Linked DNA regions of Homo sapiens: all the other regions are reported to be linked to region 4. Evidence: microRNA targets listed by miRTarBase, many of them from high-throughput screens and not tested one by one. Region 4 holds a microRNA gene; each other region holds the end of a gene's coding sequence.

The links. The annotated mature microRNA hsa-miR-4480 reads AGCCAAGUGGAAGUUACUUUA and lies in region 4 at 4,381-4,401, shown strand. An mRNA with a match to its seed (bases 2 to 7 or 8) in the 3' UTR can be bound and repressed. Matches are read on the target gene's strand: a 7mer-m8 pairs with bases 2 to 8, a 7mer-A1 pairs with bases 2 to 7 and ends in A, and an 8mer does both.
Region 1: the mRNA of MED28 is a reported target of hsa-miR-4480. The part of its 3' UTR that is shown has no 7-base or 8-base seed match.
Region 2: the mRNA of FXR1 is a reported target of hsa-miR-4480. Seed matches in the 3' UTR shown: 8mer at 2,198-2,205, 8mer at 3,064-3,071 and 7mer-m8 at 5,917-5,923.
Region 3: the mRNA of AIRIM is a reported target of hsa-miR-4480. Seed matches in the 3' UTR shown: 7mer-A1 at 710-716.

What each region holds. Positions count from the first base shown.
Region 1 is chr4:17,622,980-17,629,979 of GRCh38, reverse strand. MED28 (mediator complex subunit 28) reads right to left here. Exons shown (of 4, transcript NM_025205.5): 4 at 1-6,379. The coding sequence ends at 6,182. It overlaps FAM184B (family with sequence similarity 184 member B), which reads left to right. Exons shown (of 18, transcript NM_015688.2): 18 at 1-674. Among named protein-coding and RNA genes, the nearest start is that of MED28, 12 kb to the right of the region's middle.
Region 2 is chr3:180,974,665-180,982,586 of GRCh38, forward strand. It overlaps FXR1 (FMR1 autosomal homolog 1), which reads left to right. Exons shown (of 17, transcript NM_005087.4): 16 at 649-740; 17 at 1,458-7,922. The coding sequence ends at 1,628. Among named protein-coding and RNA genes, the nearest start is that of DNAJC19, 11 kb to the right of the region's middle.
Region 3 is chr1:37,675,669-37,683,472 of GRCh38, reverse strand. AIRIM (AFG2 interacting ribosome maturation factor) reads left to right here. Exons shown (of 5, transcript NM_001350770.2): 4 at 36-154; 5 at 313-1,903. The coding sequence ends at 350. Among named protein-coding and RNA genes, the nearest start is that of AIRIM, 11 kb to the left of the region's middle.
Region 4 is chr10:12,574,416-12,582,337 of GRCh38, forward strand. It overlaps MIR4480 (microRNA 4480), which reads left to right and starts at 4,338; the gene lies at 4,338-4,408. All of the region lies in intron 2 of CAMK1D (calcium/calmodulin dependent protein kinase ID), which reads left to right.

The sequences.
Region 1 (7,000 bases), not on the chromosome of region 4:
CATGCTTCCATAATTTTTTATTGAGGCCATATGCCTTGGGTATTGAAGTAAGGCATTTAAGGACACAAACTTAAGCTTTTTGTTTGTTATTACCAAACTGCCATTCAGAAAGTTTCTAACAATTTACACCCTTACCAGCAGTAAATGAACCTACTGTGCCCTAACACTATTGACAAAGAAATACAATTTGATAGATAAAACATTCTATTTTAGTTTGCATAATGATTCCATCAATCTCTCAACAGCAGAGCGGTCTAGAGATGACAGTGATGGCGTAGAGGTGACAGTGAAGATGAAGAGAAATTATCCAATTCGGGATTAAGTTAAGAGAGAGAAAAAAACAGTATTTAATGGTAAATCTCTTCAGGCTGTATTATGACAGGGGTGGAAGAGTTAATATGTTCCTGCAGCAAAACTGAAAGGAATACTATCTGTTCCACATGAAAGCAAACTGTTTTGTAATTGGGGTAGGTAAAAATGGATTCACCCAGTCAATGGCTGCACACCACATACCTGAGCCCTTAACTGCTCTAACACTGATGTAATATCCAACCCAACATTTGTGATTGAGGCTACTTGGTTAATTTTTCTCCAGGATCCATCTGGATTCTGCAGATGAGGCTGGCAAATTAAATGGAACTATGATAGGGACCATCTTACTGTATCTGTCAGATTTCCAAGGGTAGCACTGATCTCTACCGTCACCTCACCTCCACCCCCAGGATGCAGTACTGTGTGTTTGTTTTTGAGACGGAGTCTTGCTCTGTCACCCAAGCTGGGGTGCAGTGGCGCCATCTCAGCTCACTGCAACCTCGGCCTCCCGGGTTCAAGCGATTCTCCTGCCTCAGCCTCCCGAGTAGCTGGGACTACAGGCACCCGCCACCATGCTAATTAATGTATTTTTAGTAGAGACAGGGTTTCACCATGTTGGCCAGGCTGGTCATGAACTCCTGACCTCAAAGTGATCCTCCAAGATAACGACAGAGGCCCCGGGCACTCACAGTCACCTCATCAGTTCCTCACTATCCCTCTGCAGGGAACAGACACTCTACTGTCCTTGTGTGCAGTACTCCTCTTATCTTCCACAGTTTGACTCCTCCCATTCCCCTCCACAGGGATATTTTCCCAGGGTACCACTGGTGGAATCCTCAGCAACTGGGCCACCCCCTCGTGTGAGTGAGTGTCCATACCTCACACGCTGCTCCAGATGGGTTTTGCTACCAGTTGGGCAGTGAGTGAGCCAGTCCCCAAGCCTCATCCTACTGCCTGCTCTCAGACCACATCCAGTCACAATTGTCTCAGTCAGGTCCTCCACCAGGCATGCCCCGAGACACAATTAGAAGTGCAAGACATTCACTGGGGGGTGTGAATGCCTTCAGCCAAAGCCCACCAGAAATGCCTGTATTTGAACAAGTTGGGTCTATTCATCACAGAGAACCATAGGACTTCTCAGACAGAGGGTGTCACAAAGAACCTCTTTTAGGATTCTGGCCCTGGTTGGGTGATTTCAAGGAAGTGAGGATTCACTCGATTGGATGCTGTCAGAATGGGGGCACTGAGCATCTCAATACATCTTATTTATAGGAAGGTGGACTAGAGTAGGGATAAAGGTATAATTGCATATATATATATACACACACACATATATATATACACACATACATACACATATATACGCATATACACATACACACACACACACACACACACACACACACACACACGGCAGCTGTCACTCGTTTTAACCAGCAGAAGGATGTTTGGTATTTTGTGAGTGGTAAACTGACCTTGAATTTTCTTTGTACGTGCTTAGACAAAATTATTAAGTGGTTTATTTTATCATGGCCTGAGAGCAACTTTGGGGTTGGCATTCAGAGACTGTTTATGTCCAACAGGAGAATGGCATGACCGAACAGTGTTGTCAGCTTCTGAATGTCAGGGACAGGTGGTTTTTTTCTTTCTCAGGAGAAACACCTATGTTAGAGAAAGGGGAGAGGAAACAGAAGACAGGAAGAGCCTATGATGTAGGTCTGACAGGTGGGCCAAGGAACACCGGGGCAAAAGAGGGCAGGACAGCTCCAAAGATGTCATGGCCAGGCTGATGGAAGCGCCCAAGCAGACTGCTCAGTATTTTTTTATTTTTTATTTTTTGAGACGAAGTCTTACTCTGTCACCCAGGCTGGAGTGCAGTGGCTCGATCTCGGCTCACTGCAACGTCCACCTCCTGGGTTCAAGCGATTCTCCTGCCTCAGCCTCCTGTGCCTGGCCTCAGACTGCTCATTAGAGGAGGCCTGTGTCGGGCAGAAATGGCCTAGCACCTGACCTCCACTGTGCTTGGTGACAGCCAGGACCAGCATGCCCTGGGCAGGAACATGGCGGCAGGTCCCCAATGCCAGGAGCTTTTGTAATTGAACTCCTTGAAGCTGCTTTCTTGAAGGGAGGACTGAGCAGTGCTCCTTCACAACCTCCAGAGGCCCAGGACCAAACACCTGGGAATGTTAACAGTTAAGACATTTGGGTGGAGGAGAAAAGAGGAAAGAAGGGAAGATGCATGAAAAAGAATTAAGTTCAAGTAAAGAAGATGAAGATGGGCTGGGCACGGTGGCTCATGCCTGTAATCTCAGTACTTTGGGAGGCTGAGGCGGACAGATCACTTGAGGTCAGGAGTTCAAGACCAGCCTGGCCAACATGGCAAAACCCCATCTCCATTAAAAATACAAAAATTAAGGCTGGGCGCGGTGGCTCATGCCTGTAATCCCAGCCCTTTGGGAGGCAGAGGCAGGCGGATCACGAGGTCAGATTGAGACCATCCTGACCAACATGGTGAAACCCCATCTCTACTAAAAATACAAAATTATCTGGGTGTAGTGGTGTGCACCTGACAGCTACTCGGGAGGCTGACGTAGGAAAATTACTTGAACCCGGGAGGCAGAGGTTGCAGTGAGCCGAGATTGCACCACTGCACTCTAACCGGGCGACAGAGCAAGACTCCATCTCAAAAAAAAAAAAAAAAAAATAGCCCAGCTACTTGGGAGGCTGAGGCAGGAGAACTGCTTAAACCTCTGGGAGGCAGAGGTTCTTCTGGGAGGAATGTCAAATGGCTGAAAAGGTCACCCACCAGCTTTGATGTCGGGTGGCAGGAATGTCCGGCAGGAGACAGTGCTGCCAGCTGCTGTTTGTAGAACACACAGGCTACCTGATGGCTGGGTGGGCCTTTCCCCAGCACTTGCCTGTGGGACCCCGTTGTGCCACTGCACTACAGCCTGGGCAACAGAGCAAGACTCCTGTCTCAAAAAAAAAAGGCTGTCCTGAAGATGTGAGTAGGTTTATCTGTGGAGAGAGATAGCCCACAGGCAATCTGCATCTTGGAGCCTGACAAGGAAGCTAAGCAGTATTCAAGAAAAAAGGCCTTCTTGGTGGAACTTTCTACCTTTCAAAGAGCTACCACACCCAAGACAACCTTGGCTTCTTAAGAACACCCTGGAACCACAGGTGGGTGGGCTGTTATCAACACACTGACCAGGGAAGAGGGGTGTGAAAACTCACTTCAAATCCTGCTTCTGCCAAAGGTTAAAGACTAACCTCTTGACTTTGGGCAAATCACTTAACCCACCTAAATCCCATACTCTTCCTCCATAACCCTCCTCTTCCCGAACAACAGAAATCACTAACACCTGAAGAATACTTGCTACATTCTAGCACCCTTGCTGACTTCCCATTCAACATCTCCTTTTTCTTTTTTGAGACGGAGTTTCACTCTTGTAGCCCAGGATGGAGTGCAATGGCACGATCTTGGCTCATCACAACCTCTGCCTCCCAGGTTCAAGCGATTCTCCTGCCTCAGCCCCCCAAAGTGCTGGGATTACAGGCGTGAGCCACTGCACCTGGCCTCAACATCTCCTTTAATCTGCAGAAGTAATCCTGGGGAATAGGTCCTAGTCTTATCCCTATTTTACAGATTTATTATCCATCTGTGAAAATGGGAAAAACAATATTGATTCTGTTATAAGGCTTCTAGAAGACTGAATGGGATCATTTACAAAATGTGTGTGGCACAGATGTTTGTTTCAAAGTTGAAAGCCTGAAGCCTGTGGGCAGACCTAAGGTCAAGCACCAAGCCAGACCAGAACGTACCCCTGGACAATCACAGCAGGAGTCTCTTCCAAGACATAATACTCCACTCCCCAGTACCAGAGCAGTGCTTGGCAGAGGGCATTCCACAGGTTTCTAGGGGAACTTGAGAAGATGGCTTGTGATTTTCTCCCTGAAAAAGTTAGCAGCTCAGAGGGTTTCTTAGAGGATTATTCATCACCCAGTAAGATGTCTACAAACAGAGAAGATTGAAAAATTGTTATTTGGCAAAAAAACTTCTGAATTTAATAAAGAAATGGCAACAACTGGTACGTACAGTAATTCAAAATCTTTTCACTAAGCACCAAATAGGATAGTTCTCAATCTTCTCAAGAACCTCTTTGAAAGAACGCCTAAAACCTAATCAGTTTATTTAGGTTTTTAGTCAAGAAATACAAAGCTGCCAATCAGAGTTTCTAATTACCATGAGTGACCAGGTTAGCAACCTTGAGGTCATACCACATGAGCTTTTAAAAGCTTTGTTTAACCTATACGTTGTAACTGAGGGGATTTGTTGATGTCAGGCTGGTAATCAGAGATCCATGTGCCAGATACCATATACACACACCAAAAAGATACAGATTATATGGTCCTTATATATTTAAGGAGAATAATGTCTAATTCTCATGGGTGTAGAATTAGTGAGGGGCAGAGAGACAGATACAAAGCACTAACCCACCAGGGAGAACCTAGCGAGGGCAACAGAAGAGATCAAAGTCCTGTGCCCTGGGGATGCAACTGAATGGGTGCTGGGAGGCTTCAGGGATCAGGCACATGAGTGGATGTCAGTCCATGTGGGAAGGGGCCTTCAAGGCTGAAGACAACAAAATGAGTCAAGGCACAAAGCCACAGGAGTACTGCCAATCAGAAGACAGTGAAGCATTTGTTCTGGGTAAAGGGATGTGATCTAATAAGATATAAAACTCAGAAAACCTTACCCAATGAGAGCCAGAAATCTCCATTTCTTAACAGCAACTCAACAGGGAATCTGAGGCTGCCCACAAAACTAACGAGAGCAAAATACCCTCCCAAAGGCAGGGCACCACATGCTCTCTGTGGAGGCTCAGTAGCCAATGATCACCCTGCAGCCCCTCCCCACCCCCACCACGACACTCTAGTCCCTTGGAGTCAAATCCACTGGCAACAACCTTCCTTAACGGAAAATGTTTCCCCTCCCAAAATGTAGAACAAAAATGATACACGCAAACAAAACTCAAAACAGAAAGAGACAATCAGAGCAAGATTTAGCCCCTCACAGCTCACCTATGACCCCACTGTCATGCTACTGAAAACAGTGACTGACCCATTAAACAGATTCATTACTGCAGAATGTAATGAATGTTAGCGTATCACTGCTCCCACTATATCCTTCTATGTCAAAAAAAAAAAGTAAACACCACATAAAATATAAACATACCCCAAACAGAAGTCAGCATCAACCTAAGGATCCTACTGTAAGATTACTATACTAACCCAGGACAGTTCCATCGTCTTCTGACCTATTTACAAAAAAATCCTCATTCTGAGAGCTCTGGAAACATTACAAATATTGTATTAGATTCCTCTTCTTGAGGTAGTTCAAAGTCTTAAAACAGAGCAAATTTACATACTTTTCTACACACCACCGCGGGGTAATTATCATAAGGCCTACGACTAAAACTCCCATCTCCTGATTCTCAGGCTACTATACTCTTTTCCTTCGGATCAAACTACAGGAAACACACATAAAAAGATGAAAAGTCATGCAAAAATTTAAAACAAGCAAAGCCACCATAAAAAAGAATCTGTGTCATCATATTCACAGTCTAAACTTTGCTAAAGACAAAAAAAAAATACTTACTTGGTTTATCCAAGCTACAGACATGTTATAAAGTACTCAAGAAATTAACAGCTTATAAAAATAGTGGAAAATTTTTCAATGGGAGCATAAAACTAAAATGAACTCATTATCTGGCAAAGAGTTCTTCCAAAATGTCAAGTCCACAGGAAGGAATGTGTGGCCAACCTCACGCATCAGCCCACTCATAGGCCAACTGCCTCTGCCCTTTGCTCACGTTGGCTTCAGAGGTGCAGGGATGTTGGCAGATGCCTGCTCCAGGTAGGCCAAGGAGCCCTGAGGGATGTCGGCGGGCTTTTTGTGCTGCACGTTGATGTCCTCCAGCACCTGCTGCCAATGCCTCAGCTTTGTCAAGTGCTTCTGGACTAGTGCATCTTTCCGCTGTAATTCATTCCTTAGTTCTGACACATCCTGCAGATGAAAGTCATGGACTAAGTCAGAGCAAATGCAGGAAAAACACATACGGTTCTGGTTAGTTAAGAGGCTAACAATTCAAAACAAAGAGAATCCATTAAACCATATTAAGCCCATTACTCTGCTTGGCTCCACTATTTGATTAACCCAGATGACAGATTCTAACATAAGTTTTTATGGGCTTTTTTTTTTTTTTTTTGAGACGAAGTCTTGCTGTCACTTAGGCTAGAGTGCAGTGGTGCGGTCTCGGCTCAGTGCAGCCTCCACCTCCCGGGTTCAAGTGATTCTCCTGCCTCAACCTCCTGAGTAGCTGGGATCACAGGCACACGCCACCACACCCAGCTAATTTTTATATTTTTAGTAGAGATGCGGTTTTGCCATGTTGGCTAGGCTAATCTCGAACTCCTGACCTCAAGTTATCCACCTGCTTCAGCCTCCCAAAGTGCTAGGATTACAGGCGTGAGCCACCACACCCGGCCTACGTTTATTTTTCTTATAGAAAGTAATATGCAAGTTACAAAATTCAAAAGGGCAGCCAAAAAGAAATCAGATTGATATGGTTTGGCTGTGTCCCCACCCAATCTCATCTTGAATTGTAACTCCTACAATTCCCATGTG
Region 2 (7,922 bases), not on the chromosome of region 4:
TACACTCTGGACCTTTTCCCACTCTGATCAATGTCCACATTTTTAGGGTGGTGGTCTGTCATCTTTAGTTTGCTTGTAGTTTCTTATTTTAATCACTCAGAATCGTTTCTAGTGTGAAACGTTAAAACAAAACCATAGAATAAACCACACTTGGATATCTTAATTGTGCTTTAAAAAAAAACACACACACACATTTGAGTAAATATTTTTGTATCTGAAATTTTCAAATTTAAGTATATCATACTGTGATTTGGACCAAATTTGCCCCATTCCCCCCTCCCCCCGACTCCCCGATAATTGCAAACACTGGGCTTAGAACACTGCGTTTGTATTTCCTTTTACTGGTTGTGGGTTTCTCTAACAACTTTGTTCCACAACATTAGGGTCAACCAGAAGCAAATAGCTGGATTCTTGGGAAAGAGGAATTTAATCTAGATTTCCTCAATCTCAAGCTTGAAATTTTCTTCAGCACCAAAAGCCCAGGTAGATTTTTAAAGCTTTGTTTTTGGTTGGAGGTGATACCCAGCTTAAGAAAATTTTGACACTGGGTGACCCACCACTAGTTTAATAGTGAAATTACCCTTTATCCATAAATAAACTTTAGAAATATTTTTTCAACACCTGTAATTTTTTTCTCATCTTTAACAGTCACAGTTGCAGATTATATTTCTAGAGCTGAGTCTCAGAGCAGACAAAGAAACCTCCCAAGGGAAACTTTGGCTAAAAACAAGAAAGAAATGGTAAGGAGAATTTAACCTGTAGGTTTTTTTTTTTTTTAATTTTTGGTATGGTTTAGCTTTATTTTTTTACTACTTTTACTGTGTGATCACTTGTTTCCACAAATAGACAATACTATTTTAGTTAAAGACTCTTGAATATGTTCTTGGCCCCAGGTAACTAAAGATATGCATGCTTGAGCCTGAAATACTTTTTAGTTAGAGCTTCAAATAGCATTTATAAAATTCATTCTGCCCAAAGATACTGGGCATAGAGACTATTGCCTAATTCAGGAGCAATAGGCTATATACCTCTTCTCATTGATGGATATAGACCTTTTAAATTTTAGTTCTTTTAAATGCTTTACAGTATTTGATATGTAAATGTGATTTCTCAAAATAAGGTGAGTAAAGTAGGTGATTATTTGTTTAATATTAACTGTTTATGTCATTTTCATGGTGAGCTTTCCAGTGTTTTAAAATTAGGTACAGTTTTCATTAGTTTAGATGTTTTCTGTGGTTTGGGCACTGCTAGGTACTAGAGATACAAAGTTGAAAGACCCATAGAGTGGAATACTTTGTTATTTGTTTTGAATTTTAAAGATGTTTTAATACTTTGATCCATTGTGGTATATAAAACTGAAATTTTTAATTAGCTAATTAGTGTTTATGTAGCTGTTTTCCTCCTCAGCTATAGATTTCATTTATAAAGAAGTTGAAAAAGTTGTCTCCCTTTGGCAGGCAAAAGATGTGATTGAAGAGCATGGTCCTTCAGAAAAGGCAATAAACGGCCCAACTAGTGCTTCTGGCGATGACATTTCTAAGCTACAGCGTACTCCAGGAGAAGAAAAGATTAATACCTTAAAAGAAGAAAACACTCAAGAAGCAGCAGTCCTGAATGGTGTTTCATAAACTGAAGAAGTTCCTAGTTTACAGTTCTTTTACATTACATTTACAATAGTGCTTGTACAAGCTTGCCAAAGATAGAATATGGATCGCCAGTCTTTACATCGCACTTTCAGTTCCTCCATTTGGAATTCAAAAAGGGGAGGGATCCTGAAGAAATCATATGTTAAACATACTTTGACACCTACTGTGTTATAAAATATATCATCAGATGTGCCTTGAGAATAGTATATGTAACATTAAAAAAAAGTTGCTGGCTATAGGAAATGTTATTTTGTTTTCAAAATATGGCAGAGATGGGGGGTGGTGGGTGGGGTGGGATCCCTAACGTAATATTCTTTATGAAAGCATTAGCTGCTTTTGTTACATTTTTAATATGCAACCACTTCTTCACCTGAGGAAAACTAGAATGAAATGCAGTCTAAAATATTTTGCACTGAATTGTAATTTCTTCATTAGTTTAGTCTGGAAACTGGTCTGTTTTAATGTGTTTTTTAAATGCTGTATGTAGAGGAAAATCTGCAGACCACTGGAATACATTTGTTAAACTCTCATCTGCAGGGACACTGGGCGATACTTGGCAGTGACTGTTCTACCTTGAGGCTTTGTTTGGTTTATTTATTAAAGTGTACAGTATTTAAAAATCAAACATAGCTTTAGTTAAAACACTAAGCTGAATTAGTCATGTCCATTCAGACATAACCTGAACTACTGAAAAGATCAATTTCCAGAAGGTTTATTCTGTATAAACTACATGTTAGTCTTCAGTAGAGTATCTTTTTTTTTTCCTTTTTTTTTTTTTTATTTCGGTTGTTTGATGTGCAATATGTTTTTGTATGCAGGTAGTAAATAAACTTTGATCTTCCATTTGCTGAATTTTTTTAACTTTCTACTTTTTACACCAATTGTTGCAAAATAGTTGGAGCTATTAATAGGCTTAGGATAGTATACTTTGCTTTTTAAAAAGCATTTATACTTGCTCATAAATAGCATTAAAATGTCAGTTGGCCATTTAATCATTTTGTAATGAATCATCTGAAATCTTTACACAAGTTTAGGCTGTTAGATGCATAGGTAATTAATAATACATGTGATAATTAGCAAAAAAACCTAACAAAATTCTAATCAAAGGCAACTTTGGAAGACAATGGGGGATAGAAGGGATGACAAGCAATTTTTAAATAATAGGCCAATGATTTGCTTTATTCATTCTCAACTTATTTTGAAGGCTCTCATATCAGTGACCAAAAATCAGTTATTAAACTTTATGTATATATTTTAGCCAGAGCTTAATTTTTATGAAGATAAAGACATGAAGTTTAACAATGGACAACAGTTAGTACAGCTAATTGTGAGGTCAAGTAATTGTTAGACATAGGGGAAGGCTTTGTTCCACAATATTATATGGACCACTGAACAAGAATGACAGCCCTTTGTTATCACTTGGCATATGAAAAGTGTTGTGTGCATAGTTTGTGTTAATTTTTTATGTGCATAAAAATGTGATTTTAATTTATATGCTCTGAAGGATAATTCAGGGTATAGTTAAAAATGTACAATGTGCCAGTTCAGTATATATAACCCTAGCCCTCAAATTATTCTGATTAAGGTTAAAATGTGCTGGTATTACGTGCTTTTTCCTGAGGCCTTCTGATTGGTTCTTGGTAACAGAATTTTAAAGTAAGGTGTGAGTAGTGCAACTCCTGTCCTTTATATATAAAGATATCAAGTAATTTCATGTCCTGATATTTAAAAAAATTACCCACAAATGTGTTTTTTTAAATCGATCAAAGCTAGCAACAGGTTAAATTGTCTCAGTTCTCTTACATAATTGGGTTAAAAATTATAAGGTATTAGAAGAATTTTAATTAATGCCAAATTGGTAAATATGGTGTAAAAAAAAAAAAAAAGACTTTTCATTTTCTCCCACATAGAATAGTCAGATATATTAAACATCCCTTTTCCATAAAGATGGTTTCAATGGGAATGGAAGAAACAAAATCTTAAAAGAGTGAGTATAGCTGAACCAATTCTTCATTCTAGCAATAACCACACTAAGTTCATTACTTTACAAATGACTAAACCCAATGTCTTGTCCTTTAAAAAATATAGGTAGTGCAGAATTGTGATAAATACGCATTTGTTTTTTTAGAGAGCCCCACTCCCCAAAGGGTAGCCATTAATTCAGGTAGCCTTTTAAATGTATTTGAGAGGGTTCCGTCTTTTTGGCTGCTATCCTAGTTAGGTGAGATGTTGCTATGGGAAGAACTTGCCACTATACACTAAACAGACACTTAAGCAAAAGATGTATTCTGGAGCCTGGCACAGTAGCTTATGTCTTTGGTTCTAGCTACTCAGGAGCCTGAGGTGGGAGCATCATTTGAACTCAGTTCTGGGCCACTGAGACCCTCTTTAAAGAGAAGGAAAAAAAGGTATTCTGGAAGATCTTGTGCAGTTGCAACAATGTTTCAGCATATATATGTGAATTCATATATGACACCTGAACGGAATCATGAAGTAACAGCTGAGATTATATGGTGGCAAAAATGACCTGCTTTTCCTGAAGCTTTGGGAGGCCTAGGATTCTTGCTTTAGGCATCACCTTTGTTAAGCCTTAAAGGGGGCTACAACTTGTGCAAAATGGTGTCTCTGGTAACACTTCAGAAATAATTGGCAAAAGTGTAATAGGAATACACAAATCTTTATTTTGAAATAATCTTGTATTTTAATGTGGAATTAGAAGCAGCACATCAAACTGGTGAGTTCACAGAAACTTACCTGAGATGATGCTGGGTTCCATTGCTGTTGTGCTAAGTCACGTATTTTTGTAGCTGCTGTTAGCTGTGTCTAGCGTTTTGTAACCTAAGGAGGGTCTTATAGAAGTTGGTATGTTAACTAAATCTTGGACTGGGAAACAGCACCATTTGTATCCTCTGCAAACAGATTTACGCTTTTGAGGCTCAAACCAACTAGTGTTCTCATGGGCTGTTGCCTAAGGACAGATAAACATGGAAAACAGGCTATGTCCAGGGACAGATGATTGGTGGTTAAGAATTACAGTAAAGGAAAATTACACCTGGATTTTCTTCTGTAAAGTTTCAAGGAACTTGGATTTGAACTGTGAATCTACTGTTTTGGCAAAAAATCTCAAAGAAAAGGATGTTTGTTACTGTCTCAGTCTTCCTGTCTTTGCTACACGATTTGGATCCCTTACGCTTTTTCGTTAAGAATATCTGTCTGCTATAGTGAATTTGCTAGCCCCTTATTTTTTTTTTTAATTTTAGTTCTTTATTAGAACGTGTACTTGAATGGACTGTAGTTGCTCATAACCCATGTTAATCTCTGATAGTATTTGGGTTTTATTTCAGGAGCTTTTGCAATAAAGCAGTAACTGCAATCTGCTAAAGTCAGACTGTTAGCAAGTGGTGTTAAAACTGATTTAAGTCCATTACACTGAACAGTAGGAAATTACCACTTTTGTAAGGCTCAAAAATGATCAACTATTAACAGTTTCTTATGGTTCAGTCTAATTACAAATTTTTAAAAAGTTTATCAGTGTATCATTTCAGATTCATCTGTATCTTCTGTAATATTATTTCCAGTACTGAGGTAAGGTACACAAAAATTCCCCTGGAAAAACTATATTCTAGTTTTGTAAGATGATTTCCCACAGTCCATTTGCTTATTTCTTCCTTTGATAATTCAAAAAGATGCTTTAGGTAATGGTACAGAATTAGAAGCTGCTATTTTAGCTCTATTAACTTTTTCTCTATGGTTTCAATTTTATCCAACCAGAGAGGGCTGGCCTAGTTGGTATCTTTAAGGCCCTTCCAGTAGTAATTTGAGTCTAGTCACATGTCAGACCCTGAGCAACACCTAACCAAATGCCCAAGTATTCTCATAAGGAGTATGCTGAATTTAAGTGGTGTTTGTTTTACATATGTATCCATCCCAGACATTTTCAACTATGCTGAATGCAATCTATAAGATATTCCAAACAAGGACAAAGTAATTTTTCACAAGTCTTACAGCCCCACTATTAAGTATGCTACTAATTAGCTTCTTGAATTTCTTTGTATTTCAGTGATTGGGATGTTCTTTTTTTTTGGGAAAGTTTTTTTACCCCTTTGTACCCTCTTAATTGGATTAACTGTAAAATGTACATATTAATTTTCTAGTTTTAGAGACCATTTTCATTAAAAATATTTTCCAATAGTTTTTCTAGATAAACAATTTATACTTAATTGTTGCTTGGTTGCTTACATTTCAACCTCTAGGCTTCCTTTTTCAGCTAACTTGGCTGTCTTCAGGTTGTAAAGAAAAATGTAAACATATATTTGAAATTTCATTAACTGAAACTGCTGTAAGGTGTTAGCAAATGTTAACCATAACAGATTATCCCATATCATTGGACTGTTCTATTATTGGGTCAGGAATAATAGGTGACACAGGATAGAAGCTCTTCCTATATATATCTTGTTGCTAAGGCAGTAGTTGGCTCTAAGCTGATAAACAGCACACTGTACAGCAGTCCAAAAACTAAAACCAGAGCTTAGGTCATTCAAGTTAACTGGTACTCAAGGTTACTCATTCCAGGATACTTTACATAACCAAAAACCTAGGAGAGCATTCTACATTGTAATTTTTTTTTTACTTTGTTTACATAAAATTTACAGGGTTTTGTTTTTTTAAGCTTAGTCTGTTCTTTGACATTGTTGATTCATGTTCTAAATTTTCATCAGATTTAACATGTTTGGAGGTTCTTGTGCACTCAATGTGAACCTACTACAAGCTTCTGAACTGCAAAACCTTTTTTTTAGGTCACTGTCAACAGAAAGATGCCTTATAGAATTTCTCATGATTGAAACAGAACTCTGCATTCTAACCTAAAACCCCTCTAACCCTTTAAATGAAGCATTATGCCTGCGTGAAATTTTATTTTTAGACATTTCTGATACTAGGTTTTCTTTACGGGGGGGCATACATATTCAGTATACTGAATTTATACAGCTTTCAGTGTGGCAATATATTAAGAAGCTAGTTCCCTAATTTTTCTCAGTTCTCATTGGTTTTCCATTTAAATGTTTCCGTAAGTACTCTCATCATTTGGAAAATACTTGATGGCAGGAGAACTTGCTTAAAACTAAAGGTGGAGAAAGAGTTAACTTCCAGGACAACCCATTATAGCTCACTTCTTACCAACAAAGCAGTTTTTATACAGCACCTTAGGACTCATTTCTAATGTCAACCCAGATGGCCAGTAAAGGCAAGGGAAGAGGCTAAGTGACTCACAAAAATCTCTGATATTGAGGTCTAATGTGAAGGCTATAGATAGGAATTCCCCACAAACTTCTAATGAGGACTAATATGAACAGCAAATTGGAGAAGACACCAAGGACCTAATTTTAGTTTCACTAGCCGTGGGACCTTAGAAAAAAGACCATTTGCTCTGGACTTTTGTTTCCCAAGCCATAAAATGTGGAAGAATCTTCACAATTTCAAGTTGGTCATGTATATTTCCCTTTTACAGAGAAAGCTGAAGCCTCGAGGCTCAGATTTACCTGGCTTCTGTTTACCTGGCTTCTGCAGAAGTTTAACTTGTAACCTACCTCTCATTCCCAAAGTGTGTTTAATCATGCCGCCTTCTTTAAAATATATCTGGAAGCACCAATGAGTAAAGACAAAGGCCCCAAGCTAGATCTGTAGAGATAAGTACTAGACTCACATCTCAGTACTATCAAGGAAAACATGCTTAGGTTATCAGAATTGTGAAGGCCATAGTACAAAAAGTTAAGAGAACGGAACTCAGGATCTGAGAAAGATCAGCCATTCTCAGCATGTTGCCTTGGCTGCTTAACCTTACTAAACTTCCATTTCCTCACATGTAAAATGTACATCATAATAACTAGTCTACTGAGATAAGGGAAGAATACTTAGCACAGTGCTAGTACACTGTAAGTACTCAAATGTTACAGATCCAAGTATTTTGTAAGAAAATACCAGCAAAAGATAAAAGTTTTTTTATGGATCGTATTTGTATCAATCACCTACATGATCTAGAGCCCTCACATGGATAACATTTAAATGTTCAGTTTGCCTAATAGCCTTCAATGAAACACGGATTCTTCTACTTAAAAAAGGTAAGCCTGGAGAAAATAAAACTGATTACTATGCAAGAAAAAAATGTGCTCTGCTGTGCTCCTTGGTATTTTTAAGTGGTTTCCATTGTCTTAACACCTGTCTTAAAACGGGTATGTTGTTTGCACTGAACCCTCAAAAGTATTTATACCTATTAAGTTA
Region 3 (7,804 bases), not on the chromosome of region 4:
CATTTTCTTTTGAGCAGTCCTTAACTTCCAGAAAGGTACCTGAAGAGAAAGTATCTTCTTTCGTCTATCCAGTGGGGAGACTTGGCAAACATACAAGCTTTGCCCAAGGCCTGGGACCGAATTTCAAAAGACGAACACCAAGATCTTGTACAAGGTACTGGTTTGTGTTCTTCCTTTGTGTCTCCTCTCCTCCTTTCTCTCCCTGTGGCTCGCCTCTTTGGAAGCATTAGGAAGGTGCCCTTGCTGTGCCTCTGTGTGTTTTATGTTCTCGGGAGAGGTGATAATGCCATTTTTTCTGTCTTCCTATTTCAGATATCCTATTGAATGTTTCCTTCTTCCTGGAAGAGTAAGGAAGCTATGCGTATCTGGAGACCACGGGTACCACAGTTGAAGACTGACATTCTGAACCCTGATGTTTCTAAAGAAACGTCAGTATTTCAGTCTGACATATTTGAAACATCAGTGCCTTGAACCTTAGGACTGGGTCTTGGGGAGGATTAGCGCCTAGATGTCTGATTTTGGAGCTGCAGCATGCCAGGCCGTGGCTGAGAGTATGTGAGCCATGCCTTGCCCTTTTCTGAGGCTCAGGGAAGTGGATGGAGCTAGAGAGACAACAGGAAAGACGGTGCTGAAGAACATAGTGTCTTTCCTCTATTGTGGACCTAAAGAGGTGGGGAAGCAAGGACAAGAGGCAAAGAGCCACACTGCCCTTGGCATCATCCAAAGCATTGTCTGGTTGACACCAGGTCCTGGTTTTGTGTCTTTTGTCAATACCTGAATCCTTGACAAAAGAAAAAGTGGTTTTGATGATTTAAAGAAATAAGGGTGATTTTGACAGAAAATATATTTTAAAAATTTTGACCAATTGCAATAGTTATCCTCAAGCCAATTTCCAGAACCTGCCACCAGGGGGAGGTGGTGCAGCATGAATCATTCTGAATGCTTTGTCTTTGAAGTGTTCCCCTATTGCTGTTACCATCTCAGAGGAAGTAACTGGGCATGGTGAGACTCCTAAAATGACAGGAGTTTTTTTGGCCAAAGCTGGCATCTGACTTGCCACATTCCTCTGAGTCTGGAGTAGCCGCAGGGGTGGGAGAATGCCAGCCCAGAGTCAGTCCATCGGGGTTACATTTCCAAGGTCTGCTGCCTTCATCTATGTAATGGCCGTGTTACTTTCAGATCTTTCAGCTTCCCAGAGTGTTGTGGGAATCTTGGTCATTGAATGTAAAGGGACTTAGTAAAGGGTATAGATATTTTTCAAAAATGAAAATAACTTTTTTTCTTATAAGTGATAAGCTTTTATAAAGATCATAGGAAAACTAGAAAAAATGTAAAATGTAGAAAATTGTAAAACAAACTTCATTAGAGATATTTTGATAGATACCTTTTCAGTGTCTATTTACAAATTTTTTCTTTTAATATAGATAGGGTCTCACTATATTGCCCAGCTCACTCCTGAGCTCAAGGGATCCTCCCACCATAGCCTCCCAAAATATTGGAAATACAGGCATGAGCCACTGCTCCTGACCAATTCACAAATTTTTTTAAAGAACAAACGTGCTATCATCGATACATACTGTTAGGTTGTCTTTTTTTAAAAAACCTAATGTAATTTGTTCATCTTTTTATATCTGTAAATATAGCTCAACACAGTTATATTCTTTTTGTGAATGTATTATATCTACAATTTACCTTTTTTCTTAGATTTTACATGCATTTTCCCAAATCTTTGTGTTTGCCTATCTGTAAAGGTAATACATTCTGATTACAAAAAATGAAAATGTTACATAGAAATGTACCGTTATCCATCTACCAGATAACTATTATTAATAATGTGTATTTATTTTTCCAGGAATTAAAAAACATCTATCATATAAGTATTGCAAATAAAACTTAAAAAGCATTTAAGTGTCAAGTCTTATGTTGGGCTCTGGGGACAGAAATAAAAGAGAGCCCTAGAAAGGCTCACAGTTCCACCAGGGAAAGATTAATGTGCAAATAAGTCACTGATATCTTGTTAAAATTTGGATTCTGATTCTGTAGGTCTGGGATGGGGCCCAGATTCTGCATTTCAAACGAAGTCTCAGCTAATGGTCCAAGGACCAGACTTTGGATTGCAGAGACTTAAGTTGTAATACAATAATAAAAGTGTTATAGTTAAGGTAAAAACAGGTGCTGTGGGAGAATAGAGATGATAACTAATTGCCTGTGGAACTCCTTCTTGATGACAGTGACATTTGAGGTAGGCCTTGAAGGGAATTTTACCTGGGGCTAGGAGAGGGGTGCGGGGCATTCCATGCACAGGGGATAATCTAAACAAAGGCCATGTTTGAGGCAGGATGGAAGCCAACACTTGACGAAAGCTAGCTGTGTGCCAGGCATTGTGCTTGTTGCCTTTACCCTCCACAACTGGCAAATAATAGTTCAGTATCACAAATAACAAGTTCACAGATGGATAGAAGGATGGCAGGAAGTGGGTCAGTAAGGGTGGACTGGAACCAAATTGTGAAGAGGATTATGAGTCCCAGCTCAAGCGTTTGTATTTTGCTCTACAAGTGGGAGATGCTCGCTTATGTGTATGCATGTGTAATAAAGAGGTTTTTAAACCTCCCTCATAGAAGCAAGTAATGGCTAAGTAGAAACAAGCACGTTTATGGTGCTCAGTAATAACTATATAGTATTTAAGTATTGTTTTTATTTTGTTCCCTCTTAGCTTTGTGTCTGTTAAAATGCCATATTTTTCATTGTTCTTTTTAAATTTAAAATAAAATTTATTTTTTTGAGACAGAGTCTCACTCCCACCCAGGCTGGAGTGCAGAGGCACAATCTCAGCTCACTGCAACCTCTGCCTCCCAAGTTCAAGCGATTCTCCTGCCTCAGCCTCCAGAGTAGCTGGGATTACAGGTGCTTACCACCATGCCTGCCTAATTTTTGTATTTTTAATAGAGACAAGGTCTCGCCATGTTGGCCAAGCTGGTCTCCAAATCCTGACCTCAAGTGATCTGCCTGCCTCGGCCTCCCAAAGTGCTGGGATTACAGGCATGAGCCACCACACCAAGCCTGATTTATTTTTTAAGTGATATATCAATATTGTAAAATAGGTATGCAAGAGCATATTTAGGCTGGGCACAATGGCTCTTGCCTGTACGAGCACTTTGGGAGGCCAAGGTGGGAGGATGGCTTGAGGTCAGGAGTTTAGACTAGCCAGACAACCCTGTCTTTATGAAAAAAAGAGCCAGGTGTGGTGGTGTGTGCCTGTAGTCCTAGCTATCTGCGAGGCTGAGGTGGGAGTTTCCCAATTCCCTTCCCTGAAGGCAACCAATATTGAATGTTTCTAGTGTATCTTTCCAAAAATACTATGCCTGTGTGAGTGTGGTGGGTAGGTATCCTCAAAGACAGCCCCCAGTGCTCCCACCTCTGGTATTCTTGCCCTTGTGTACTCCCCTCTCCTTCCAGATGGGCTGGACTGACAGATATACTTCTTTTTTTTTTTTTTTTTGAGACAGAGTCTCGCTCTGTCACCAGGCTGGAGTGCAGTGGCGTGATCTTGGCTCACTGCAATCTCCACCTCCCGGCTTCAAGCGATTCTCCTGCCTCAGCCTCCCGAGTAGCTGGGACTACAGACATGTGCCACCACGCTCAGCTAATTTTTGTATTTTTTAGTTAGAGACAGGGTTTCACCATGTTGGCCAAGATGGTCTCGATCTCTTGACCTTGTGATCTGCCCCCCTTGGTCTCCCAAAGTGCTGGGATTACAGGCGTGAGCCACCGCGCCCGGCCACAGATATACTTCTGATGAATAAAATACTACCCAAGTGGTAGGATGTCACTTCTGAAATAGGTAAAAAAGACTGCAGCTTCCATCTTGGGTGCTCTCTCTCTCTCTCTCTCTGGGATCACCCACCCTGGGGAAAGGCAGCTGCGATGCTGTGAGGCAGCCATGTGGAGAGGCTCATGTGAGAGACCAATGCCTGCCAACAACCATGTGACTGAACTTGGAAACAGATCCTCCCTCCCACAGTTGAACCTTCTGATGGGTCCACAGCCCCTGCTGACAGCTTGACTACAGCCTCTTGAAGACCCGACCCAAAGGCAGCCAGCTAAGCAGTGCCCGGATTCCTGATCCATGTAAACTGGGATAATAAATGTTTTAAATCACTAAGTTTGGGGGCCATTTGTTCCACAGCGATAGATAATCACTACAACAAAAAAACCTCCCTTCATTTTTATATAAATGCTAACATACCATATACCCACTTTTGCACCTTGTTCTTTCTTACCGTATCTTGGAGTTCATTCTATATAAAGAGCTTCCTTACATTGTTTTAAACAGTTGCATAGATTTCTGTTGTGTGGGTAAACCATAATTTACTTAAAATAGCTCCTTAGGGTGGACATTTGTTTCCAAAGTCTTAATACCTATTGGTTTTTATAGTAGCAACCCGCCTGTACTCCCACTCTTGTTCATTAGGCCTCCCCTCCACCACCTGGAATTTTCCATTTAGCTAACCCCATCACCTTCCAACAACAAAAAATAAATTGTCAGTATTTTTTACTAGAATCACTAAATTGATAAACGAATTCAGGGAGAGTCACCACACTGGGAATACTTCTGGTGCTCCTCCTTTATGTATGCCACTGGCTTATGGATGAAGACACCAATGTGAGTTCTGTTCTGTTTTCCCTCAGCTGGGTCAGAACCCCTTTCTCTGTCAGTGTAAGACAGTCTTGGGATGAAATGAAGAATTTTGGTTTCCCTCTATCCTGTCCCTCCCCATCCACATCTAGAAACTGACCTTCAGATTCTTCTCTCAGAGTAAGTGTTGTCTCAAGGTGCTGGGGTGCCTGGGCCCTAAAGAGAAGGTCTCCTGCTTGCCCAAGGAGAGCCTGGGCTTTATGGGGACTGTATTACACCAGACTTTAATTGGGACGAGAAGCCAGGTACCTTCCCAACCTGCTCAAACACTGGATCATTTATAATTCCATTTCCCTATGAGAAGGGAGGAAGAGTGCACATTTCAGGGAGCAGGTTTGGGGATGAGGGGAAGGAAGGAACCTAGACCTGGGTTCAAGTCTCAGGCTCAGCCTTTAGCCAGCTGTGTGATCTTGGGCAAGTAATTTCCTCTAAGTCTATTTCCTCATCTGTATAGTGGAAGTGATGATATGTCCTTACAGGGTTGTAAGGTTTAAGCGAGAGGAGATAGTGAGGGCTTTGGGTACATTTGTGAGCATTTAAGGGATTGAAATTCACTTAAGCTTTATTAGTCACTCACTAAGTGTATAGCTCTGTGCTAGGCTCTTTAATATCTTTCTAAACCCTCAACGAGAATTGAAACAAGTATGCTTACTTCCATTAGGTAGATGAGGAGACCGAGACAGAGACCTGGTAAGCTTTCTAAATGCCCACAGCTTGTCAGTAATGTTGCCAGAATTTGCACCAGGGCTTGCTTGGTTCCGGTGAAAGGTGCTTTCCCCCACATCACTGTTGCCTTTCTGCCACAGAAGGCAAGAGCATGCCTAACATCTACTCAGCTGTAACAAGGGTGAGGTTTTCTGATACCCAGCCCTGCACAGGACATGGATCCTGCAGTGCAGAGCTACCTCCATCCAACTTGGCCGTGGCACATGAAGTATCCAAGCCTCTTCCAGGACAGCCGCAACCTTGCCAGTTACCCTTCCTTCTGACCCCATAGCCAAGAGGGTTGGAGCAAATCCTGGCGTGGTCTACCAGAGTCCTACACTTTTGCCTTTGATGCCAGGGCCTGGTAGGAGAAAGCCAGTGATTCTGAAGGAATGACAGGGGTACCCCTTCCAGGCACTGTCCTCCTCCCCATCCTTCCTGGAAGGCTCCTTCTTGGTTTCCACGTAGAGCAAAGTCATTTTTCCGAGACTGTAGGGCCCCAGCCCAGAGATTCTGGTCTAGTATGTGTGGGGAGGGGCTAGATATCTGCATCCTTAATAAGTACCCTTAGTTCAGTTGCAGAGTCATTCCTTAAGAAAGAGCCTTCATCCTGAGAAAAGGCAGCAGTTAGCACAGAGATTGATGGCTGGGTAGACTAGCCACAAAGACCGCACTTCTCTGGGGAAGAAACGCCTTCATAACTCCCTCACTGCACCTCTTTTCCCCTTTTTGTTGCCAGTCCTCAAGTCCAATGGGTACCTCGGCATTGCTCCCCTGGCCCCTCCATGCTGTTTGGGGTGGGATAGTCATAACTTATGTATATGGGGCTTTAGAGTCTGTCGCATCCATATCCATTCATTCTGAGGCCTCCCAGTGTGCCCAGCACAGAACTCATCATTAGCAATACAGAGGTAAATCAAAGAAGTCCATGATTTAGTAGGCCAGGCAGATCTGCAAGCTCTTCGTGAGAAGTGCTATTGTGAAGGATGTGTGGGGAATGCAGTGGATGGAGAGAGTGACTGATTGTTTTTGTGGGTTTTTGTGGGAGGCGAGATAGGGGAATGTGAGACTAGCTCCTCTGTGACTTAATTTCAGTGAGAGTCTTCCCTCTGGTCTCTAGTAGAGTAAGTGATGGGGGTGGGGGTCAGCCTGGCCTGCTGGCCATCATGTGAGCGGGGAGCAACCCTTTCTGCTCTGGCTCATCTCTTCTGATTGAAACGTGTGGAGCAGTTCTTAATTTGCACAGAGAGCCCAGACTAATAAATCCGCTACTCAATTGCAATTCCCACAGTGCGTTTATAGGCAACAGCTGACTTTTATCAGCTAGTTTGTTCTTTCATATAAGCAGAGTTTTATGAGGGTCTCCTGAGCTGGCTTGTAATGTGATGAAACGTCTGCAAAACTCAACCATAAATTCCTGGCACCTGCCAAGCAGAGGATGCTGTTTTCCAGGCACATTTTGTCCAGCTGGCGGCTCTGTCCCCTTGCCCAGTTTGCATTTTTGCACTTGTCTCTTTAAACTTGGATTTGTTTTTCAGTTCTCTGCGGCCTCTTTAAAGGCAACCGAAAAATGAGGGGTAGGAAAAAGGAACTAGAAAGTTACGTCTGTGCTAAAAATTACCCCTGGCTTATGTTGCTCTGAAAGCCAGTTTTGATCCCACTGTTGAAACAGAGACATCAGGCTTCCCTGCCACATGAACCCCAGGGCGGGGGACAGGAGGCCAGTGCCAGCCGAGCCCGTTATTAATACTTTGATTCTTTTCTGGGCCATCACCCTTTGTACTTGCCAAAGGCCCCTACCCTCAGTTGTCAGTTCTGTAAATTAAAGAAACAGCTCCGGAGGCCTTTTCCCCAGATGGTCTCCAGGCATGACATCTTTTCCCAGCATTTAGAGCTCCCCCAACACAGAGAGATGAAATTTAAATGCCCTCTGTCCTCCAAATAGGGCGAGACCTGGACTCTTGGAGAATGCTGTTTGGCTGGGGTGGACTGGGTCATTGGGAGAGCTACAAAGGCCTCAGTGGTGCAACTAGGAATGGTTGAGTGTGGCCCTGGCTGTGTCTCAGGATTACCCACCTGTGTTTATGGGTTCTCTTCATTTTGATCAGACCATTAGGTCAGAAGGCTCCTGTGGCTGCCCTTCCTGTGGCCTTATCCCCTGCTTGCTTTCCCTAGCCCACACTTCAGGGCTGGCTTCATGTGCCTGTGACCCACACTTACAAGGGTTCCCAAGGTTGGTTTCATGCTCTGCTGTCACTCTCGAAATTCTAAACAGTTTTCGAATGATTTTCCTTTGGCACTGGGCCCTGCAAATTATGTTGCCAGTTCTGCCCAGCTTCTCTCTGGTCCTACTGCTTGTAGCTGCCCCAGCACTGTGGACAGACCCTTTCTTCTCCAAGTTGA
Region 4 (7,922 bases):
CTCAGCCTCCTGAGTAGCTGGGATTACAGGTGCACACCACCACGCCTAGCTAATTTTTTTTTTTTTTTTTTTTTTTTTTTTTAGTAGAGACGGGGCTTCGCCATGTTGCCCAGGCTGGTCTTGAACTCCTGGCCTCAAGTGATCCACCCACCTTGGCCTCCTAAAGTGCTGGGATTATAGGTGTGAGCCACTGCATCTGGCCTGGGATTCTTTCTTACCTCCTTTGCTGACTTCTTCCTCCTCGTGTTAGTCTGTTCTCACACTGCTATAAAGAACTACCTGAGACTGGGTAACTTATAAGAAAAGATGTTTAATTGGTTCATGGTTCTGCAGGCTGTACTGCAAACATAGAGGCTTCTGCTTCTGGGGATGCCTCAGAAAGCTTCCAATCATGGCAGAAGGAGGAGCAAAGTGTCTCACATGCTCCTCAGGAGCAGGAGCCGGAGCGTGAGTGAAGGAGGAGATGCTGCACGCTTCTAACAACCAGATCTCACGAGAACTCACTATGAGGAGAACAACACCAGTGGCATGGTGCAGAACCATTCATGAGAAACCGCCCTCCATGATCCAATCACCTCCCACCAGGCCCCACCTCCAACACTGGGGACCACAATCCAACATGAGATTTGGTGAGGACACGGATCCAACCCCTATCACTCCTATTTTTTTCTTTTTTCTTTTTCTTTTTATTTTTTGAGATGGAGTCTCACTCTGTTGCCCAGGCTGTAGCGTAGTGGCACGATCTTGGCTCACTGCAACCTCTGCTGCCCAGGTTCAAGCGATTCTCCTGCCTCAGCCTCGCAAGTAGCTGAGATTACAGGGTCCTGCCACCGGGCCCGGCTAATTTTTATATTTTTAGTAGAGATGGGGTTTCACCATGTTGGCCAGGCTGATCTTGAACTCCTGACCTTGTGATCCACCCGCCTTGGCCTCCTAAGGTGCTGGGATTACAGGTGTGAGCCACCACACCCAGCCATCACTCCTGTTTCTTAGCTGGGGACATTTAAAACAATTTGATATCCTGTCTCCTTTGCTTTCCAAATGTCCATCTCTGGAATCCCCCTTGGTTTGTCTCTCACTTTAATTTGGAGGACGTCCAGGGCAAAATCTCCAGCCTTCATGTCTCTCTAAAGCAGTGGTCTCCAAAGTGGGTAGACAAGATGGTCCATTGGGATGCAGAAAGAAAATGGTAGCACTTCCACTTATAATTTGATCTTTTAGAATGAGGAGGAAGTTAAGAATCATGAGTATTGTTTTGGATTGACAGTTTGTCAGGCAGACAGTCACAAGCCTGTGACTCATTCCCAGGGACCCGTGGACCCCCCAAGAATTCGCGCTCCTCTGCCTTGAGCTTAAGAAGACAGTGGTGGTTTGCATGTGGCTGGTTAAATGGATTTGTGGGTTGTATCCCCTAGTGTTACCTAAACCAACCTTCACAAAATAGACCAAGAATTTAAGAAGATTCCTGGAAGGAAACCATGGCTTGAAGATAATATTAAAAATGCAAGCGCAAGCACACAAGAGGATAATGAAAGAGCTCAGATTTCTGCTCCTGGGAGTTCTTTGTCAGTCATGTTACAAGGATAAAACAATTTAGTAACAATACAAATACAAATGAAATATTCAGTTTCATTGATCTCACTTAAAATACTCTCTTATTCATAACATTTTTCTAGTGAAAGCAAAAATGTGAACTGCATTGTTCCTAAGTAAAATAGTTTATTTATGTTGTTTCTTTGATCGAATTATTTAAAGTTTTAAGGCTGTGTAAGTTTTAAATTTACATAAGATATGAGTGCAGTGGTATCTCTGTTATAATTTATAAATTAATGTATCTATTTTGGGGGTTTTGTACCTGAGTATTTTGTACTGAAGGGGGCACATAGTTAACACAGTTTGGAGACTATTATTCTAGAGCAGTGGTCCCCAACCCTCTTGGAACCAGGGATTGCCTACATGGATGACAGTTTTTCCACTGACCGGAGGAGGGGGAGGGTGATGATATCAGGATGATTCATGTGCATTACATTTATTGTGTACTTTATTTTTATTATTATTACATTATAATATATAATGAAATAATTCTACAACTCACCATGATGTAGCATCAGTGGGAGCCCTGAGCTTGTTTTCCTGTAACTAGATGGTCCTACTTGGGGGTGATGGGAGATGGTGACAGATCATCAGGCATTAGATTTTCATAAGGAACACACAACCTAGGTTCCTTGCATACACAGTTCACAATAGGGTTCATGCTCCTATGAGAATCTTTTGCCACCAATGATCTGACAAGAGGCAGAGCTCAGGCGGGAATGCTCACTTGCCTACCACTCACCTTCCTGGTGTGCGGCCCGGTTCCACGGCCTGGTACTGCCGTTCTGGAGACTCGGCTCTGTATTTCTAGAGCTTTGTAGACAAATCCATGCTGGTGTCTGGCTTGGTCCTGTGCATGTCAGTCAGTGAGCACACCTGCATGCCGTCTATCTCAGAATGGAGAGCTGGAGTGTCTGGCAGAAAAGGAACCACATCTCTGCGAGTGACACAGAGCCCCAAAACCCAGCCTGGGGAAAGGGGTGGAGAGAGGCCGTGGAACCAGTTCCAGAACACTTTCACGTGCATCTTGGTTTCTAGCACGGACTGGGATGCCTTTGTTAATATGTGCCAGGCTGGGGCACTTGCAGGAGGTGACGGCCACCTTGACTCTGTATGCTGAAGCCCTCTGGTCACTCACCCATGTATGCTGCAGTCCCCCCGGCCAATAACACAAGCCAGGACAAGCCCAGGGGAGGTCCCCGGACACACAGCGAAAATTCCTGGCTGGTTCTGTATGTCGCCGTGTTGGGTTCCCAGCCCAGTTCCAGCTCTAGGCTTGCAGGTCTCTCACTAGGAACTATGCCTCCAGCCCTTTGGTGGATTAACACCTGCCACCTCCAGTTCTGAATCTGACCTCTCCCTCTAGGCCTCCAGCCTGGATCTACCCAGTTCTGGATTCAGATCGTTACAGGCCCAAAGCACTGAAACATTGCAGAGCACATTGCTTTTCTTCTTTATTTAAAGAACTAAATTAAGCATTTTAAACCATATAATAAATGTAAAGAGATCCAACAAAGTTCTGTTTCTGCCATTATTACTATATCATGGCTATTTCGGAATGATCAAATAGGAGATTTTTTTTTGTTTTCAAAAAGTCTCTGTCTTTCTCTTTTGTTGTCTGTATTTTGCTGCTAAGCCACCAGTTCTCGATTGGTTCACTCCCTCTTCCTGCTACAGATTGTCTTAGGGGTTCTATTCATGAGACTTCTGGAGACCTAAACCCCACTCCGGCCAATGCCCCATAACGGGGTATGATGCTTGGCTGACATCGTTAACTCAGCCCCTCCAAGATTATGCCCATTTTCCTCCTTCCCCACCCACGTGGTGTCCTCCTTGTTACCTTTGCTAATGTCATTCCCAGGATCCCAGTTATCTACGTAAAAAATCAAAGATGGAATCTCCACCTATTCATCCAATCATCCATGCAGTCAACAAATTGGTATTCAATGCTAACAGTAATATTGGCTAACATTTATTAGGCAAGCACAGCTGCCAGCGTTTATATTTGCATTATCTTACATCCTCACAGCAACTCTGCACGGAAGGTATTGTGATAGTCTGCTTTTTATTTATTTATTTATTTTTAGACAGGGTCTTGCACTATTGCCCAGGCTGGAGTGTAATGGCACCATCATGGCTCACTGCAGCCTCGACCTCCCGGGCCCAAGCGATCCTCTCACCTCAGCCTTCCAAGTAGCTGGGACTACAGGCATGCACCACCTTGCCTGGCTAATTTTTTAAAAAATGTTTTGTAGGGCTGGGCACAGTGGCTCACGCCTGTAATCCCAGGACTTTGGAAGGCTTAGGCAGCCAGCACTTGGGGAGGCTTAGGCGGATGGATCACCTGAGGTCAGGAGTTCGAGACCAGCCTGACCAACATGGAGAAACCCCGTCTCTACTAAAAATACAAAATTAGTTGGGCGTGGTGGTGCATCCCTGTAATCCTAGCTACTCGAGAGGCTGAGGCAGGAGAATCGCTTGAACCCGGGAGGCGGAGGTTGCTATGAGCCGAGATCGTGCCATTGCACTCCAGCCTGGGCAACAAGAGCTAAACTCCATCTCAAAAAAAAAAAAAAAGTTTTGTAGAGATGAGATGTAGTCTCTCTAGTTTGCCCAGTCTGGTCTTGAACTTCTGGGCTCCAGCAATACTTCTGTCTCAGTTTCCCAAAGTGCTGGGATTACAAGCATGAGCCACTGCACCGAGACCGATGACCCACTTTTAACAGCTGAGAAACCTGACCATTGCAGAGGTGAGTTGACCTCCACAGGGCCACCCAGGGAGTAAGTAGCCAAGTGGAAGTTACTTTACCTCTGTGATGATTTGCACCAGTTCAGTTTGACTTTAGAGACAACAAGCTGAAGCTCTACACTCGATTGACTGTTTTCAGGTGCTATGTGAACACGGTGGGTAGAGACGCATAGCACATGAGCCCTGTGCTGGGGAATGTGCAGTCTAGTGGGTGCCCAGAGGCACGAGCAGAAGACAGCAGCCCTTTAAGAAGTGCCATATGCTTCAAGGGCATAGGGAAGTGTGTCTGCTCCAGGGAAGGGGCTTTCACCGAGAAATTGAACAGAGCTTCAAAGAGCAAGAAACAATTGGCTGGGTGGGTGTGGGAGCGCGAGGAGTCCTCGGAAGGCGCCTGAGTGAGGCTGTGGGTGTGGAACAGCATGGTATGGGCAGGGAACAGCATCGTGGCTGATGCAGGATGAGGGGAGCATTCCTCTTCTTGTTCCACTTCCTGGGTCTGCAGTTACAGAGTCCTGCATAGCATTCCTCATATCTTTCCCTTCCTTTCCTTTCCTTCTTCTGAATCCTGTGTTGGGCCCCGTGGCCTTATCTCTGGACAGTTGCAGCAGCCTTTTCTCTCCACTTCTTCTCATCCATCATGTATTACTTAAGCCAATTTAATCATGTAGCTTTCTTTGATCATCTTGTTCTCTCCATTAAAGAGTGGCTCTCCATTGCCTTTGGAATGTGGTCAGACCATTGAGTCTGGTGCTCCAGGCCTTCTGTATTTGGGGGTCAGTCTGTGTTTCCTGCTGGATCTTTCATGATGTGTCTGTCTCTTCCCACTGGAGCAAACAAAAATAACTTTCTCTTCTCTCCATCTACTACTCTTTTTCCCTGTACCCTTTTCTTTCCCTACCTGTCAAAAATCTTGACCATCTCTCAAGCTCGCTCCAGTGTTACGCAAACATGAAGCCTTCCGGACCAGACCAGTCACAATTGTCTCTCTGTGCTCTTAGATGCCTTCACTGTGATGGGGACCGTGGGCTGCACCACCCTTGTCATGGTTCACACTTCTTAAGCGAGAGGTCGGATCTCTTCTCTGGATCTGTCTCCATGAGTTCCCACCAAGATAGGTTGGAGATTCACGGAGTGGCTTTGAGTTTCAAAAGCCAGTTTTGAACCTGCTTGTTGCCCTGGCTCAGGTGGAATTCTTTAGAAAAGTGTCCACTCTCAGCCAGGGTGGAATCCTTTAGGAGAGTGTCTGCTCTAAGCTTTTTCCCTTGGCCTCCACTGGGGCGTTTTTCCTTCAGCAGAAAACCCATGATGCCATCTCCTCTGGGGAGGAAAATACTGCTCTGTGGAACCTCGCAGGGCCTTTCGGCACAGCCAGAATTCCCTGGTGAGAGGTTTCCTAAAGGGTTAGTCATTCAGACCTGGCTGTGTGAGCCAGATCTGTCCTGTCTTGAGATAATTCTTAAGGCTACGATTTGCTCGTCAACATCATCTGTAACTAGTTTCACTAACAGATGTTTAGGAATTGGGCATCTAGGCTGTACCAATGTATCTGGACTAAAATATGCCCCTCCCTCCCTTCCTTCCTTTTTTTTTTTTTTTTTTTTAATATAGCTTTAATGGGAGACTGGAGCCTGCTGTTTCTCACCCCTTGTCTCCCGGGTGACAGTATTTGGTGTACAAAGCTAGTGACTCTGCAATTGTTGAATTAGCTACAGATTAACTCCTCTGAGAACTTGGTTTCCGATGAGAGTGAAACATGTACTTTGTATGCAGAACTCTTACTCTTCAAACAGGACTTATTAACTAGAAGAAACTTCACTTTGTACTTGAAAAATGGAATGTAAATCATAAAAGATTGTACCATTTAAGCCCCACTAGAAAGAGAAAAACAGAAGTCATGGAGAACCACATCCTGTTCATATGGACCCCAGCCTAAGAAGAATGCAGGAGTGTGTGGAGAGGGTCCTATGGGGAACCCCAGGAATGGCCAATGGTGGGAAATTAGGTTCTGGGAAATGTGTGTATTGTTTTGAAAAGTATTATTTTACCTGGAGAAATTGAACAACTGACATCAGCTAACATATATTTATTATTGTGTTGAATGGCCAGCATTCTGTGGGGGCATTGTGCTTTTTTCCTTTATTTTATTTTCATAGGTTTGGGGGAACAGGTGGTGTTTGGCTACATGAATAAGTTCTTTAGTGGTGATTTCTGAGATTTTGGTGCACCCATCATCTGAGCAGTGTACACTGTACCCAGTGTGCAGTGTTTTATCCCTTACCCATCCCCACCCTTTCCCCCAAGTCTCCAGAGTCCATTGTGTCATTCTTATGCCTTTGCATCCTCATAGCTTAGCTCCCACTTATGAGTGAGAACATACGATGTTTGGTTTTCCATTCCTGAGTTACTTCACTTAGTATTATGGTCTCCAGTTCCATCCAGGTTGCTGCAAATGCCATTATTTCATTCCTTTTTATGGCTGAGTAGTATTCCATGGTATATATATACCACGATTTCCTTATCCACTCGTTGATTGATGGGCATTTGAGCTGGTTCCATATTTTTGCAATTGTGAATTGTGCTGCTATAAACATGCATGTGCAAGTATGTTTTTTGTACAATGACTTCTTTTTTTCTGGGTAGATATCCAGTAGTGGGATTGCTGGATCAAACAGTAGATCTACTTTTAGTTGTTCAGGGAATCTCCACACTGTTTTCCATAGCGGTTTTACTTGTTTACATTTCCACCAGCAGTGTAGAAGTGTTCCCTTTTCACCGCATCCCCACCAACATCTACTGTTTTTTGATTTTTTGATTATGGCCATTCTTGCAGGAGTGAAGTGGTATCACACTGTGGTTTTGATTTACATTTCCCTGATCATTAATGATATTGAACATTTTTTTCCTATGTTTGTTGGCCATTTGTATACCTTCTTTTGAGAATTGTCTATTCATGTCCTTAGCCCACTTTTTGATGGGATTGTATTTCTTTGTTGCTGATTTGTTTGAGTTCCTTGCAGATTCTGGATTTTAGTCCTTTGTAAGATGTATAGATGGTGAAGCTTTTCTCCCACTCTGAGGGTTGTCTGTTTACTCTGCTGATTATTTCTTTTACTGAGCAGAAGCTTTTTAGTTTAATCAAGTCCCATCTATTTATCTTTGTTTTTGTTGCATTTGCTTTTGGGTTCTTGCTCATGAAGTCTTTGCTTAAGCCAATGTCTAGAGGGGTTTTTTTGATGTTATTTTCTAGAATTTTTATGGTTTCAGGTCTTAGATGTGAGTCCTTGATCCATCTTGAGTTGATTTTTGTATAAAGCGAGGGATGAGGATCTAGTTTCATTCTTCTACATGTGGCTAACCAATTATCCTAGCACATTTGTTGAATAGGCTGTCATTTCCCCACTTTATGTTTTTGTTAGCTTTGTCGAAGATCAGTGGCTGTAAGTATTTGGCTTTATTTCTGGGTTTTCTATTCTGTTTCATTGGTCTATGTGCCTATTTTTATACCAGTACCATGCTGTTTGGGTGACTATGGCCTTATAGTATAGTTTGAAGTCAGATAAAATGATGCCTCCAGATTTAT